Regions from separate parts of the Homo sapiens genome. Here region 1 is linked to region 2. The links come from fine-mapping of genetic effects on gene expression. Tissue or cell type: skeletal muscle. Region 2 holds a variant in brackets; the other region holds the start of a gene. All regions are shown on one strand. Distances are from middle to middle. Region 1 holds the start of CFAP418 (cilia and flagella associated protein 418). Region 2 overlaps CFAP418-AS1 (CFAP418 antisense RNA 1).

The links.
Region 1: CFAP418 starts here. The variant in region 2 is fine-mapped to the expression of CFAP418 in skeletal muscle (GTEx, PIP 0.91).

Annotation. Positions count from the first base shown.
Region 1 is chr8:95,264,308-95,272,648 of GRCh38, reverse strand. It overlaps CFAP418 (cilia and flagella associated protein 418), which reads left to right and starts at 3,448. Exons shown (of 6, transcript NM_177965.4): 1 at 3,448-3,614. The coding sequence starts at 3,460. CFAP418-AS1 (CFAP418 antisense RNA 1) reads right to left here and starts at 3,813. Exons shown (of 4, transcript NR_038209.1): 1 at 3,759-3,813. It overlaps TRS-AGA2-5 (tRNA-Ser (anticodon AGA) 2-5), which reads left to right and starts at 2,911; the gene lies at 2,911-2,992. RefSeq lists enhancers at 2,707-2,786, 2,823-3,462, 3,417-3,856.
Region 2 is chr8:95,287,307-95,295,647 of GRCh38, reverse strand. The region is part of intron 1 of CFAP418-AS1 (CFAP418 antisense RNA 1); the gene reads right to left. Among named protein-coding and RNA genes, the nearest start is that of TRS-AGA2-5, 22 kb to the right of the region's middle. The variant T/G (reference allele first, on the strand shown) is at 3,625.

The DNA of each region.
Region 1 (8,341 bases), 23 kb after region 2:
CCATACATCCATTTTATTAAAATGGGAGTGGGCAGGAATGGAAAACCAAGTATCATATGTTCTCACTCGTAAGTAGGAGTTAATTTATGGGTACACAAAGGCATACAGAGTGGCATAATGGACACTGGAGACTCAGAAGAGAGGAGGACGGGTGAGGGGTAAAGGATAGTAACACTATCTATTGGAGGCTGGGTGTGATGGCTCACGCCTGTAATCCCAGCACTTTGGGAGGCTGAGGCGGGCGGATCACCTGAGGTCAGGAGTTCGAGACCAGCCTGAACAGCATGGAGAAACCCTGTCTCTACTAAAAATACAAAATTAGCCCGGCATGGTGGCACATGCCTGTAATCCCAGCTACTTGGGAGGCTGAGGCAGGAGAATCACTTGAACCCAGGAAGCAGAGGTTGTGGTGAGCAGAGATCAAACCATTGCACACTCCAGCCTGGGCAGCAAGAGCAAAACTCCGTCTGGGAAAAAAAAAAAAAAAAAAAGAACACTACCTTTTGGGTATAATGTACACTACTCGGGTGACAGGTGCACTAAAATTTCAGACTTCACCACTATACAATTCATCCATGTAACCAAAAACCGCTTGTACCCCAAAAGCTACTGAAAGTAAATAAAATCAATAAAATGAAATTTTAAAATGTAAACGGAATAAATTATCCAATCAAAAGACCAGAAAAATGGGAGTAGAAGTGAGGGAGCGAGGGAACACACTAATTTTTTTCTAATATACACAAAAAACAAAACACAGAAAACCAGAAACATTTTCTCTTTTATTTTTTCACCATCTCTCATTGCAAATCTTCTACACGCTAATAGATTCTTTTTTTTTTTTTTTTTTTTTTTTGAGACGGAGTCTCGCTCTGTGGCCCAAGCTGGAGTGCTGTGGCGCGATCTTGGCTCACTGCAAGCTCCGCCTCCCGGGTTCACGCCATTCTCCTGCCTCAACCTCCCGAGTAGCTGCCAGTACAGGCGCCCGCCACCACGCTCAGCTAATTTTTTGTATTTTTAGTAAAGACGGGGTTTCACCGTGTTAGCCAGGATGGTCTCCATCTCCTGACCTCGTGATCCGCCCGCCTCGGCCTCCCAAAGTGCTGGGATTACAGGCGTGAGCCACCGCGCCCGGCCGCTAACAGATACTTTCAACATTGGTACAGATCCCCTCAGATTTCATCTTCTCAAGAGCAAAATCAAATCATTAATGTAAGCCTGTTAAACTGGATGGCCACTAACTATGACTTCCCCTGGAACCATGTTGCAAGGACCGCTTTTTCAAGCAGCTTTTCCTTGCCTTTCTGCTAGAGACCGGTTCTAGGTAAAATCGCCCAGCAAGGCAACTTGGAAAAAAACTTTAAAAAATTAATTAGTTGGAAATCATAGAATATGCCAGGATTCTAGACAAATAACTAGTGTCCGAGTCCCCTCCTTGCCCCAACATTGTCTCCCCACCCTCTAGAGTTCTCTACTCTGACTACAAGGGTAATACATGTCAGGGTGCCTCTAGGATACTACTTAAGCATCCTGACAGTGTCTGATCTGAGTGGTCAGTGCTCAATGTTAAGTATTTTGCATAAAAATGCTAGTTTCCCCTGTGTGTGTAAATATACATATATGTTTATATGCATATTTGTGTGTGTGTGTGTGTGTGTGTGTGTGTGTGTGTTTAGGCCAGGATTCTAATAGCTAAAACAAAGATTCAGAGACAATAAATAGAGCAGCCCTGCAGAAAAGGGGAGTGTTGCCTTGCTGAGAATATTCACAGTTGGTCTGATGGTAACATGGGGTGTTCTACTAAATGACAGTTTGATCTAGATGATTTGTTTGTTCAAAGTATCTTTCATCTCCTAGGGATAAAAAGCCCTGCTTTGTCACATTTGCAATTTCCCTCATGTAAATAACACCCACTATGGCTCATTTCAAGCTTCCCAAGTGACATCACTGAATGGAAAGTTAAAGAGAGAAAGTCTTTCAGATGTAAACAATCTCAATTATATTTATAAATAATAGTAAAAGGTAGTGGAATCACTAGCATATGAATTTTGAGTATCATATTTGCTTTTAACATAATGTAATTGCAAGTTTGCATAATTTAATATTTAATAATAATTGCATTTAACAACTAGCTCCCAAAATCCTTGAAAATTTATCACTGGGTAGGAGTGAGCATGTCCCATTGGCTCCAGCACACCACTACATGTTGCTCTTCAGGGACCTTAAAAGATACTTTGAACAAACAAATCATCTGGATCAAACTATCTCCAGAGTTCCCAAGGGTGCCAACCTCTTTGCTACCCCACTTTAGAAATACCCAAAACACAGGTTAAACTATGCACAGTATTTATTAAGAATGCCATTTACAATACCTTACACTTGTATCACGCTTTACACTTTTCAAAGTAGTGCTTTTATGGCACGGTGGGACTGTCTGACCCTGCAGAGTGAATTTAAATCGCTGGGTAATAGCTTTTTAATGTATAATGGGTGAAAAGATAGTCCTGGGAGCCGTTTGTCAAAGAGAAAGGCGAAGGAGTGGAACTGGCAGCCCCACAAGGAAGTCGGGAAGCTGGTTGGCCCCTACCCGGTTCCTGGTTCTCTCCTGGAAATGGCTCCAACATTGTGCAAGCAAGTGGGTGTGCAATAGTTTTGAGCACGCATCTCTCTCTCTGTCTCTCTCTCTCTCTCTCTCGGATTTAATTAGAATTTCCGTTTTTTCCAACAAAGAGTTGGACGGGATACGTTCTAAGACTTTTACAAACTGTAAAATGATGAGCGAGGTAACATTCAAATATGCTCTTAACAGAACAGCTCAGTAATGGTTTCCTCCACATCAAAACGTGCCTATTGCTGCAGCAGACGCTTATGCAGAGTCTACATGCACTCTCACCGCAAAAATTCACACAGCCAGTAGTCGTGGCCGAGTGGTTAAGGCGATGGACTAGAAATCCATTGGGGTCTCCCCGCGCAGGTTCGAATCCTGCCGACTACGGGAATGTCAGCTTTTTGCCGTCAACACTTACTTTTTGTGTTTTAGAGCGTTCTGCTCAAACCTTCCACAGATTTCAGGAATTTACAAACGGCTGAAACACAACAGGGACCCAAACGGGAGAGGAGAGAATGAAGGGGCGAGAATGCGTGCTTGTGGTTACAACGTGGGCCCGGGAGGGGGAGACGGGAGGAACCACGCCAGACATGCTGAAAGGAAGAAACGCAAAGCATCGCGAGTCACACAGACACACTGCAGAGACAGCTCCGAACTCTGTCCCTGCATACGCCCGCCCCTCACGAACCCACCGCGTTCTCTGCCGCGAGCCCTCGTGGGCGCCGGGTTGCCACGGGAAGCGGTGCGCATGCGCGGGGACGCCTAACGGGGCAGGAGCCCGCCAGGTCCCCTCGTTACTCCTGGAAACCACCGGAGCCTTGGCGATTGGAGGGGAAAAGGCCAGGCGATTCAAGATGGCGGAGGACCTGGACGAGCTCTTGGATGAAGTCGAGTCCAAGTTTTGCACACCTGACCTTCTAAGACGGGGTATGGTCGAGCAGCCCAAAGGCTGCGGCGGCGGCACCCACAGTAGCGACCGGAACCAAGCCAAGGCGAAAGAGACGCTCAGGTTAACCGGGCGGGAGGGGTGGACTGTTCTGGTAAAGCCCTGCTCCAGGCCCTAGAGCTGCCCCTCCGCCGCCCAACCCAAAAGAAACGTGCCCGCGACCTCCAGCCCCTCCTTGCATCAGGGTTCAGACCCTCAGCGCCCTACCCTCCGCGGCAGCGCATTCGTCGACCCTCTTCGCGGATTCTGGCACCTCTTCACTCAGCGCAGACTCCGCCCCCCGGCATGCCCCAGAGGGCTGGCCCCCGCCCCGCCCCGCCCCGCCCCGCCCCGCCCCGCCCCGCCCGCAGAGCCCGCAGTCCGCGCCAGTCTCCTTCATCCTGTTTCTGGCTGCCAGCGCGTAGGAGGTTCTAGTCGGGGACCGGGATACCCCTCAGGCGCCCCGTTCTTAACCCCGAGAGGGCTGTGCTGACCTCGGCCGCATTTTGCCTCTGTGTGGCCAAGCGGTTCTCATCTCCCTGTGAGGTGCCCTGTTAGACAGCCTCATCCCATTGCCTCAGACCCCACTCCCCAGGTCAATCCTATTTGTCTTTAGCTCAGTTTTGTTGTTTTGTTTGTTTTTTGAGATGGAGTCTCGCTCTGTCGCCCAGGTTGGAGTGCAGTGGCACGATCGTAGCTCACTGCAGCCTCCAACTCCCGGGTTCAAAGATCCTCCCACCTCGGCCTACCCTAGCTGGGATTACAGGCACGAGCCTGTAATCTGGGATTACGTAAACTGGGATTACAGGCACGAGCCCGGTTAATTTGTATTTTTTGTAGAGACAGTCTCACTGTGTTGGCCAGGCTGGTCTTGAACTCCTGAGTTCAAGCTGTCCTCCCGCCTCTGCCTCCCCTAACTGCTAGGATTACAGTTGCGAGCCATCGCACCTGACTCAGTTTGTTTTATTTTTTTAACTCAGGGAGTTAAGATGAGATTAAATTCATTACAAAAGGGTTAATTATTGTGAACATTAAACCGTCTACCTTCCTTCTCTCCATGGCCCCCTAGTTAAGGGTGCCAGACATACATATGGAAATTTAAGGACATTTCTTAAGGTATTTTGGTTTTTTATCTAAAAACTACCTTTCAAATTTACCAGTCGTTTTTCCTCCATGTAATTATTAAATAATAGGATTTCCTTCACTTCCTCATTTCCCCCACAACCCCTCAAAAAAAAAAAACAAAATGTTTGCATAAGAATATTGACCTTCAGTAACTCTTGCTAGAATCTTTTGGAAATTGCCTCTTGCCTAGAATATTTTGGAAACGCTTGTGAAATTACACGGAGGCAACTTTGGATCAATCTAAGAACGTCATCTCCGTTAATTTTTTTGCTGCATCTTTGGTTTGGTTTTGGTTTTTTGGTGTGTGTATGTGTGATTTCCCAAAGTATTATCCAACTCTGTTACTATCCAGTTCACCTGGCTTACCTCCAGTGATATTTATTTATTTTATTTACTTATTTATTTATTTTTGAGTTTCGCTCTGTCGCCCAGGCTGGAGTGCAGTGGCCCACCTCAGCTCACTGCAAGCTCCGCCTCCCATTCCCCTGCCTCAGCCTCCCGAGTAGCTGAGACTACAGGCGCCCGCCACCACGCCTGGCTAATTTTTTGTATTTCTGGTAGAAACGGGGTTTCACCGTGTTAGCCAGGATGGTCTCGATCTCCTGACCTCGTGATCCACCCACCTCGGCCTCCCAAAGTGCTGGGATTACAGGCATGAGCCACCGTGCCCAGTCAGTGACATTTATTTATAAAAATTCACTCTGCGAAGATAAAAGCATCGAAAAAATTCTAAAGGAGTACATAAACAAAATTTCTAAAAATTAGTTGAGTTCTGAGCAGCATTTTAAAACAAAAATTAGAAACAACTATAATTACTATGAATGGGCTAACACTCATTTGGCTGGATGTTGTAAATATCACTCTCATTAACTTTTATTATCTTGTGTACTGGAATTCCTTATGTATCTATTAGCGCATCTACCATCCCTATCCCACAACAGTGTTGCTTTGCAATTTCTTTAGTACTTTTCGTTTGTCCTTCTAGGGGATAGAACTAGTCTATCAAGGAGCTTTTCAGAGCTGTTCATCTTAGGAGAACTAGCATGCGGAGGGGCAGGATGTATTGAAGCCAGCTGCTCAAAATGGAAAGGACTATTTATGTGGATCTTCTCCAACCATGGGTTGTGTCATGCCTGTTCTTGCTCTACTAAAATTCATCCATAATATTTCTAGTACCTCAGCCCACCTTAATACATTAGATTTTTTTAGTACTAAGTAACATAAAAGCCTTAGTGAAACAGTACTGTTGTCATTTATATTAAAACTTTTCATCTGGCAATGTAGTTGTAAATTGTACAAAAAACAGCAACAAAGGGCCTAAACCTTATACCAAATATAGTCCCAACCTGGTTTATAATGTTATATATTAAAATTTTTCCTTGAGCCAAAATTTATACTTAAAAGCTAGGAAGCAATTTATGTTTGAATTTATTGACAGGAGATTACCTACTAATTGTATAGCAGTGTAACCTGTATCTCTTATAAGAGTTAAAATACTAATATTACCTCTTAAAATGATACTATAAATGCAAATAATACTATAAATGACCATGCTACATCTGGATACCAGGAACAACTGCTAATGTAAGAGGTCAAAACATGCAATTTGTTGAAGTGTTCAAAATGATAAAAAGAAATATGTGATTAGTAAAAAAATTAAAAAAGACTGATGTGGGTTGAGAAGAACTGCAATAGGAATAAAGTGGTTCAGGATGATACAGATGGGAATATTTAAAGATAATATAGCTTTCTAGATGATAACTATAATAACAGCCAACATTTATTGAGCTCTTTCTGTATGCTAAGTGCTTTGTATATGTTATTTCATTTAATCTTCACAATCCCATGCGTGAATACTGTTATCCCCATTTCATTGACCAAATCAATGCTTAGTTACTTGCCTAAAGTCATATTGCTAAATCACAAGGACATAGTAGATCTAGATTTAAGCTTTCTATATAATACCTCTCACATTTAATTATAGGTTTAAGTGTTTATATTTTATCTTAAATATATGTTTTATTTTCAGCAGAAACTATATCTTTAAAAGATTAGAATGTCAGAAACAGAGTCAGAAAGGGAACCAGTAAAAGCTTATTAACATTTGATTGAGATTATTGTCACATCAAAAGACCAAAAAGAGTCTTATACAGTCCTTTAAAATTATGAGTTCTCAATGAAATGTTGACTTTATTGTTATTACTATAGCAAAGCATAGGCAAGTGTAGGCATTTTGAAATTGTGTGATCTAAGAACAGACCAGAATCTTATGTAAGCTGGTAATTTGGATCTGTAACAGTACTGATTAGGTTGGTGGAGTTTGGATGTATCTGATTCTTGAAATTGTGAAATTGCATGAGGGAGGAGAACCCGGAAAGTATGTCCTGAAAGCCAAAGGAGAGAATTTTAAGAGGACATCTTAGCAACCTCTTATCGAAAAAGAAATATAAGGAATTGGTACCCAACAGTGTCAGATGCTTCTGAAAGATTAAAGAGGATTGGAACTGAGAACCACCATTAGATTGTAGTGATTTGGGCAGTGGAAACCTTCGAGAGAAGAGTTTCACTATAGTTGAGGGATTAGAGGCCAGAAGTAGAATATTATACCTGAAAGAAATTTTAAATAGTCATCTAGATATCATTTTTATAGATAAAATATTTGAGTTTCAGAGAGATTAAATAATTTAAACTAAGTCGGTATCTCTAGACTGGTGATGATTTTGCCACCCAAGGGGCATTTGGCAATGTCTGGAGACATTTTTTATTGTCGCACCTGGGGAAGGGTGTGCTATTATTTAATAGCATCTAGTGGGTAGATGCTGTAAAATGTCCTGCAATATACAACAGTCTCCTGCCCCCACATACACACCCCAGAGAATTATCTGACCCAAAATGTCCATAATTCCAAGGCTGAGAAACCCCCGCCTAGGATTAGCACCCAACTGATTCTAAATCTAGTCTACTTGTAAGGAAGTAGAAATCGTGGATATAGACTATTCTTCAGTAGTGAGTAAGAAAGGGTGGCAGCTTCAAGACAGGGGTTTTTTGAAGTGTCTCTTTGAAGAAGCAAGCCTTGAGCATACCTCTAAGTCAAAGGAAGAAACCAGTATACAGTGAAAGACATTAAGGGTAAAAGTTACAGTACAACTGAAGAGGCTAAGCCTGGAGACAGAATCAACCATTAGGTAGTAGGCAGCCGTCTCTTGCTTTTCTTATATCAGGTTAAATTATTTTACTCCAAGATGTAATGAAGAAGGCCTATGTTAAAAATTGTCAGAGTAAATACATTTCTGAAATTAGAGAGTTTGACTAAAAAACTTGTCTTCTAAAACAAATAATTTAATGAAGTTATAAAGTTGATGTACAGCATCTACTTCATACAAACGCTAAAGAAAGTTAATCTTGTATAGTATTAAGTGCACGGACTGCCCTAGATTCAATTCCAAGCCTTTTCTCCCACTACTTATATGACCTTGAACAGATTTCTGAATCTCTCAGTGCCTTTTCTTCATCTATAAAACTGGGGTTAAATAAAGATATACTCATGTAAAGACTAAGGACAATGCCTGGGTTATAGTAAGTATTCAGTAAATACTTACTATTTAGTTATTAGCTATTTAGCATCAGCTATTAAATAGAAGTTCTATGCAGTAGTGGTTTATATTAATAATCCAGTGATGGCTTTG
Region 2 (8,341 bases):
AGTCAAAAGGACCCAAATGTTGTTATGTCTGTGAGATAAGCAGGATGTAGTCACACAAAAATATTAATGAAATGCAAAAGATATAAAGGAGACTGTAACCTCAATTACATCTTAGCAGCATGAGGTAATAGTGCTCTCAGAAGTGGATGTTTCCTTTTTAAAAGGAATTCAAGGACCTTTGTGATGATAGAAGAGTTCTGTATCCTGATTGTGATGGTGAACACACAAATCCACACATGATAAAATTGCATAGAACTATTCACACACACCCAAATAAGTGCATGTAAAACTGGTGAAATCTGCAAAAGATCTGTGGATTGCACCAATGTCGATTTCCTGGCTTGATATTGTACTCTAGTTAGGCAAGATGTGACCACTGGCGGAAATGAATTAAGGGTGTACAGCACCTTTCTGAACCATTCTGGCAGCCCGCTGTGAATCTATGGCTATTTCAAAATAAAAAGATTTTTTTAAGGAATTTGAGATTAAGGAATGTTATAATTGTGACTATGATCCACCCAGGACAGAAGGTGTCTGATTCTGCGACCGCTGTCAGAGTTCTAGACACAGCCCTGGAAGGAGACAGGGTAATCCATCCAGCTTCCTCAGCGTCCTAGAAACAAGTCTCCTCCTATGTAGCCCCTTTAACTATCCCAAGGATCCCACACCAGAGGCACACGTAAAAACCTATGGCAAATTCTGGACTCCAGCTCAGGAAATTCCTCCAGATGCCTCCCCAGGGCCAGCTTGAAGTCTCCTCATCACACATGCTTCTCGATTCTCTTGGCTTCTCGCCTTGGCTCCCTCGTGGCTTGTTGCCCAGGGTGGGGCTAGTAATGGTGCCCCAGACTCTTGGCACGGACCTGAGACTTCATGGGGCAAGACTTGGTCCTCACTCCTCAGCTCCAAGTTCTGATGTGCCTCTGAAAAATCAGGCTGAGGCCGTGTGACCTGGAGCCCAGAAAAAGTAATGATGTCCCCTGTTTCCTTACCCCTCCAATCCAATGAATATTTGTTACTGTCTTTGTTCAGGTTGTATTCTCAGCTAGCAACAATTAATCAATGATTTGGACTTTCCAGTAGATTCATTCACTGGGAGACAGTGATCAGAGAAAATAACCAATATTTATTATCATAGTTATTATACCCGTCATTGTAAAGAAATCCATTTCCACTCTGGTTTCAGCATGATTTAAGGCAGTCCCTCAGTACAGTATAGCAGTTATGACTCCAGAGCCAGGCTGCCTAGGTTTAAATCCTGGCTCTGTCCACACTTGCTCTGAAACCTTATATACTGCCACTTACTTGCTATGGGACCTCAGGCAAAAACCTCATTTCTCTGAGGCACTTTGTTTCCTCATCTGTAAAGTGGGATAATTAACAGAGCCTACCTCATAGGGCTGTTGAGAACATTAAATTGAGTAATACATCTAAAGTACTTCAAGTAGTGCCTACCTGCAGTAAGGGTTATATGGTAGTTATTATTACTGCCTGGAAGTTAATAAAATGTTGAAGACTGTAAAACTAAGAGACAGTCCTGTACCTATAAGGACTGAGTTAACCTTAAGCCCTGCCTCACTAGCAGACCCAAACTGAGAAATGGGCCAGCTTCTGAGACTTCTCTTGCCCCCAAGTCCCTATAGAATTGGTATTTGTTCTGCTTGTTGAGTTTTTAAAAAGGGCCACAAACCAATGCTAAGTTTTGCCCTTCAACATTAAAATCATCTGGCAAGTGATTCCGGGCAGAGAAACAACCTGCTGGGAGTCCATACAGACCTGTTGCTGCACTGACTCACCCATGGAATAAGAGTTGCAAAAACAGTCCATGTAAAGGTCTCTGAAAATATCTCAGGTAGCAGTGTTTTGACACAAGTACTGCTTGGGAAAGAAGCACAGTCAGTGAATACTTCGCATGGGACTAGGAGAAGTGAAACTGTTCTAGGCTCTATGATAACAGATCAACCAACTATTCCAGCAAAGTTGACCAAAGAAACTAACAAACTAATCATTTCATTCAATTAACTTGCCAGTTTAGTGAAAGATTCAGTTAACTTTGTGTTCAATTCCATCAAAAGTATTAAACATGTTTTGCTATGATCACAAGCTTTACCTGTAGCTCACTTGACAAAAAATAAAAATGACAGTTCACCCAGGGAAACATACAAGAGTTAGAAACTGGCTATCCATTTCGCAAACTTACCAAAACCAAAAATTAAGTTTGTATGGAAAGAGCTTAGAAAGTCAAGCTATAGTACCTGTCAATATCATTAAAATCTGGTTGCCCTAAAATGTGATTCTGGCTAAGCTGAAAGAAAAAAAAAGGAAAAGACATACCTTAAAAGCTGATCACAACACAATTAATAAATACCAAAGTAATGGCTGTATTTGAACAGGTGATGGGGTAATTAGGCAGGGAAAGTTGCTTGGGGCTGATTCCGACTGATTCCATTAAGTCAACCGGTGAAGTAATACTGCTGTTTCTCTGGAGACACAAGACATCTCTGAAGACCTCTTTTATTTTCCCTACCATGGGTCCCTGGGCCCCTGGAGGAGTTCCAAATGCAAAAATCCTACATCCATACTTTGCACAGATTTCAGAAGTTGGCAAAATAAAACCAGAGATTTTTTTAAAATGACACAATCTCAAGGATCAATAGAACTACTAATAGAAGACCAAGACCTAATAGAATTCTCCTAATTGTCCATTCGTGGAAATGTTATTAGAAGTGGGGTGGGGGGTTGGAGAATGGAGCTGGAACACGAAAGTACCAAATAACAGCCAATATTTGTTGGGTGCTTACGATGAGGCAGGCATGCTTCTAAGCGCTCCTGTGCATTAATTTATCTAATTCTCAGGAGAGTGGTGTTATCAGTTCCATTTCACAGATGAGGAAAACTGAGATGCAAAAAGATTAAGCATCCTCCCCAAGATCCACAGTGAATAAGTGGCAGAGTTGGGATATTTTATCCAGGCAGTATGGCATCAGAGGTTATTTAGTTCAATACTACACTATGAGGCCAAACAGAAGACCCTCCCTTAAACAATGCACCATGGGGCCAGATGAATCCATTGTGACCCCATCAGCTTAGGCGTACCTCCAGCAACAGTGGAGGTACATCTAAGAGCATGGGGCCAGTGTTTGAAAAGATACAGGCACTGGGACCTGTGGAGCAAACCCAATGACATCTCTTTTTTAAATGTATTTTATTGTCTTAAAATGAATTAAGTGTACAATACATTATTGTTGACTATAGGTACAATGTTGTACAACAGATCTGAGAACTCATTTGTCTTGTTAACTAAACTTTTATGCCCAGTGATTAGTAATCCTCATTTCCCTCTTCCCCCAGCCCCTAGTAATTACCGTACTACTCTTTGATTCTTTGAATTTGACTATTTTAGATATCTCATACAAGTGGAATCTTCTGTGACTGGCTCATTATTGTACTTAGCATTATGTACTCAAGGTTCATCTATGTGGTCATATAGTGCAGAATTTCCTTCTTTATTAAGGCTGAGTAGTATCCCACTGTATATATATACATTTTCTTCATCCGTCTCTCAATGGACACTAAGTTTGTTTCCACCTTTTTTGCTGCAATAAACACTGGAGTGCTACTATC[T/G]CTTCAAGATTCTCATTTCAACTGTTTTGGATAAACACCCAGAAGTGGGATTGCTGGATCATATGGTAGTTCTAGTTTTTAGTTTTTGAGGAACCTCCACACTTTCTCTTAGCAGCTACACCATTTTGCATTCCCACCTACAGTGTACAAGATTTCCAATTTGTCCACATCCTCACCAACAGATGTAGTCTTTTGTTTTGTTTTTTGATAATAGCTACCCTAACAGGTATGAGATAATATTTCATTGTGGTTTTGGTTTGCACTACCCTGATGATTAGTGACATTGAGCATTTTTAATATACTTGGCCATTTGTGTGTCTCCTTTAGAGATTAGACCATTATCCTCTATCATACACAAAAATCAACTCAATGTGGGTCAGAGACTTAAATTTATGACCTGAAATTATAAAAACTCCTAGAAGAAAACATAAGGAAGAAGTCAATGATTTCATGAATATGGCACCAAAAGCACAGGCAATGAAAACAAAAATAAGTCAATTACATCAAACTAAAAAGCTTCTGAACAGCAAAGGAGACAAGTAAGAGAGTGAAAAGGCAACCTATGGAATGAGAGAGAATACTTGCAAACCATACATCTGATACAGGGTTAAACTCCAGAATACCTCAGAACCCTCTACAACTGAATTTTTTTTTTAAAGTAACCTGATTTGTTCTTTTTGCTTAGAATTGCTTTGGTTATTACACACATACTTGGTTTTATATAAATTCTAGCACTGTTTTTTTCTAATTCTGTGAAAAAAACACATTGGTAATTTGATAATTGCATTGAATTTATAGATTGGTTTGTGTAGTACACTTATTTTAAAAATATTGGTTCTTTTGAAAAAAAAACTGGGCTAAGAACTTGAATAGACATTTCTCCAGTGACATATTTATAAGATTGGGAAGAGGGAAAAAAAGGAAGAAATTAGTGCTGTAACAAAATATTCACCAGGTATCAGTTTTTTTCTTATGAGCCTTTGCACAGCCTCTATAGGCTGGCCACATCCACAGGGGTTCTGTGCCTGGGAGGCATGGAAAACACTCTAAAACAGTGTCCTGGTAGCCATTTAAAAAAGGGTGGACTTAGAAAACAGCAATAATGAAGTGTGATTCCCCATTACTGCAGCCCTGCCAGGCCCTATAAACCATCTGAGAGCTCCTAGCACCTGTGGCACTAAGGCCCCAAAGCAAGTGAGGGGAGAAGGGAGTGGCTACCTTTCCTGTTTCAGAGATGTAGAAAGAGGTGAAGGATGATAAAGCCTGCTAGTGCACAGAAAGGAACACTCTCATCACAAGGAAAAGATATAGCCACCTGAAAAGTAAAAGTAATTATTATTATTATTAGTGAGAAATGAAATAATTAGTCTGGGAGCAGAGACCTGGCTATTAAGTATGTGTCTCACGAAACAGTCAAATATGGGCAAAGATCACAAAAAGAACTAGAATGGAGATAAGTGGAGTTATTTAGAAAATGAAAAAATATATATTTTTAAATCATCAGCTACAGTTAAGAATGGCCAAAATCTGAGCGCTTGTTTACAGAGGAAATTGACTGGAAACCCAGAGAGGTGTCCTCGGTCTACTCAGAGTTCTTGTTGGACCCTTCTAAGGAAGATAGAGGTGTTTGCTGTCCTTCATCCCAGGAAGCTGTCCTGAGTAGGGCAAGGCGGCATCACCCAAGCCATATGGAGCTTTCAAAGGAAAGAAGGAGAGGACAGTGAAGGTAAACCAGCTGTTTCTCACTGGGTTAGAAAAACTTCCAGAAAACCACACAGAGCCTTCTAAATGATGGGACATGCTGAACATGCCAAAGAGAAAGGTCCCATTGGGATGGCATTGGAGGGTATTTTCCCCCTTTACTTGTAATGATTCAAACACTGATGGATGCCATGCAAAATTGAGGAAGCAGTGGGGGGAAGGGGGATCTTGATGGAGCTCATGTATGCAACATATGGAACAAGTTATTGAAGAAAGTGCTTCTAACAGAGTTTATGAAAGTTAAGAAGAGGCAGTTATGCTTCTTTTAGAGACAGCAAAGATTAAGGGCGTGGTGAAAAAAATAGCGAAACAGGATTAAGATAAAGCAAAACAGAGGAGAAATATTGGACCAGATGAACTTTCACCTTCCCTAAAATGATTTATGTACTTATGAAGAGCTAGACTGGACTTGATTTCAGGGGGTGAGAGTTGCTGGTGAACCTGCATGTACCCAGTATTTCTGCAGAAATTCTGGACAAATCTACACTTCTACAGGCAAAGCCAACACTGAACATGCATGGTGATGAGGTTCTCTATTTAAATAGGACAAACACTTACTTGAGCACCTCATTCAGAGTAACAAAGAGAGAAGGAAATAAAAAAGGAAACAGCATCTGAATATAAAGAAATCTAAGTAAAGAAGTGGCTTTTTGTAATGCTCCAGTTTTTTTATCTTTGTTCTAGAAAATAATCATTTCTCTCTGTTTCATTTATGACTTATTGGTGTCAGAACTCAAGAGAGGCTCAAATGTGACAAAAGGCCCTGTGAGGACCCAACAAGATCTAACCAGTCTATTTCACAGTGGCTTAGGCCAGAGAGGATTGGGCAGAACAAAAATGGTTAGCATAGTGGTGAGCTAAATGTCAGTGTGTCTGACTAACTGTCACAGGGGAAAGCAGGAGCCAGAATCACCAGGAGATGAAGCGTAAGACTTGGAAACTTTACTGCATTGCAGGTAGTGGATGGGGAGGTTGAGGGAATGCAGACTAGCCAAGTCCAAGGCCCAAAGAGCCAGCTGAGGGTTGAGCCTGGAAGCTTTGCTAAGGGTTGAGATCCATGGAAGGGTCATGAAATCAAGGTAGCCAATATTTCTCCAGAATTTTAAAAGTAGAATAAGATAGGACAGGATAGGATAAGATATACAATAGATTATACTAGAAGAGTGAATTACACTCTACTAAGGATAAGTATTGTTTAGTGAAACTTTTAATTCAGAGGGGGTATATGTGGGTGTGTGTAGTGTTTCTGTGTACTGGGTCATTATATAATGACTCAAAAAAGTTTGAAACCACTGATAAAAGAGGCTCAAATAAAAATAGAGGAGGAGGAAAGAAAGTGTTATAAAATAGGAAAAACCCTGAGATCACTACACCTCTGGATTTAGATGTGTCTATAACTTTCCTTATTGTATTACCTTCCTTATTGGGTCAGGTTTTCTATTGCTTGATGCTGACTAAATCACAAGGTAGCAAGGCTGAAGTGAAGATTCAATTAGATAATCTGGAGTTGGACATGGTAGCTCACACCTGTAATCCCAGCACCTTGGGAAGCTGAGGCGGGAGGATCATTTGAGGCCAGGAATTGGAGACCAGACTGGGGAAGATGGTGAAATCCTGTCTCCACAAAAAATTTAAAAATTAGCCAGACAAGCCATATGCAGAAAACTGAAACCGGACCCCTTCCTTATATGTTATACAAAAATTAACTCAAGATGGATTAAAGACTTAAATGTAAGACCTAAAACCATAAAAACCCTAGAGGAAAACCTAGGCAATACTATTCAGGACAGAAGCATGGGCAAAGACTTCATGACTAAAACACCAAAAGCAATGGCAACAAAAGCCAAAATTGACAAATGGGATCCAATTAAACTAAAGAGCTTCCACACAGCAAAAGAAAGTATCATCAGAGTGAACAGGCAACCTACAGAATGGGGGAAACTTTTTGCAATCTACCCATCTGACAAAGGGCTAATATCCAGAATCTACAAAGAACTCAAACAAATTTACAAGAAAAAAAAACAAACAACCCCATCAAAAAGTGGACAAAGGATACGAACAGACACTTCTCAAAAGAAGACATTTATGTGGCCAACAAACATATGAAAAAAAGCTCATCATCACTCGTCATTAGAGAAATGCAAATCAAAACCACAATGAGATACCATCTCACACCAGTTAGAATGGCAATCATTAAAAAGTCAGGAAACAACAGATGCTGGAGAGGATGTGGAGAAATAGGAACACTTTTACACTGTTGGTGGGAATATAAATTAGTTCAACCATTTGTGGAAGACAGTGTGGCAATTCCTCAAGGATCTAGAAACAGAAATACCATTTGACCCGGCAATCCCATTACTGTGTATATACCCAAAGGATTATAAATCATTCTACTATAAAGACACAGGCACACGTATGTTTATTGCAGTACTATTCACAATAGCAAAGACTGGAACCAACCCATAATGCCCATCAATGATAGACTGGATAAAGAAAATGTGGCACATATATACCATGGAATACTATGCAGCCATAAAAAAGGATGAGTTCATGTCCTTTGTAGGGACATGGATGAAGCTGGAAACCATCATTCTCAGCAAACACAGAAACAGAAAACCAAACACCGTATGTTCTCACTAATAAGTGGGAGTTGAACAAGCAGAAAACATGGACACAGGGAGGGGAACATCACACACCGGGGCCAGTTGGGGGTGGGGGGCTAGGGGAGGGATAGCATTAGGAGAAATATCTAATGTAGATAACGGGTTGATGCATGCAGTAAACCACCATGGCACGTGTACACCTATGTAACAAACCTGCACATTCTGCACATGTATCCCAGAACTTAAAGTATAATAAATTAAAATAAAATAAAATAAAACATTAGCCAGACATGGTGGTGTGCACCTGTAATCCCAGCTACTCAGGAGGCTGAGGTGGGAGGATCCCTTGGGCC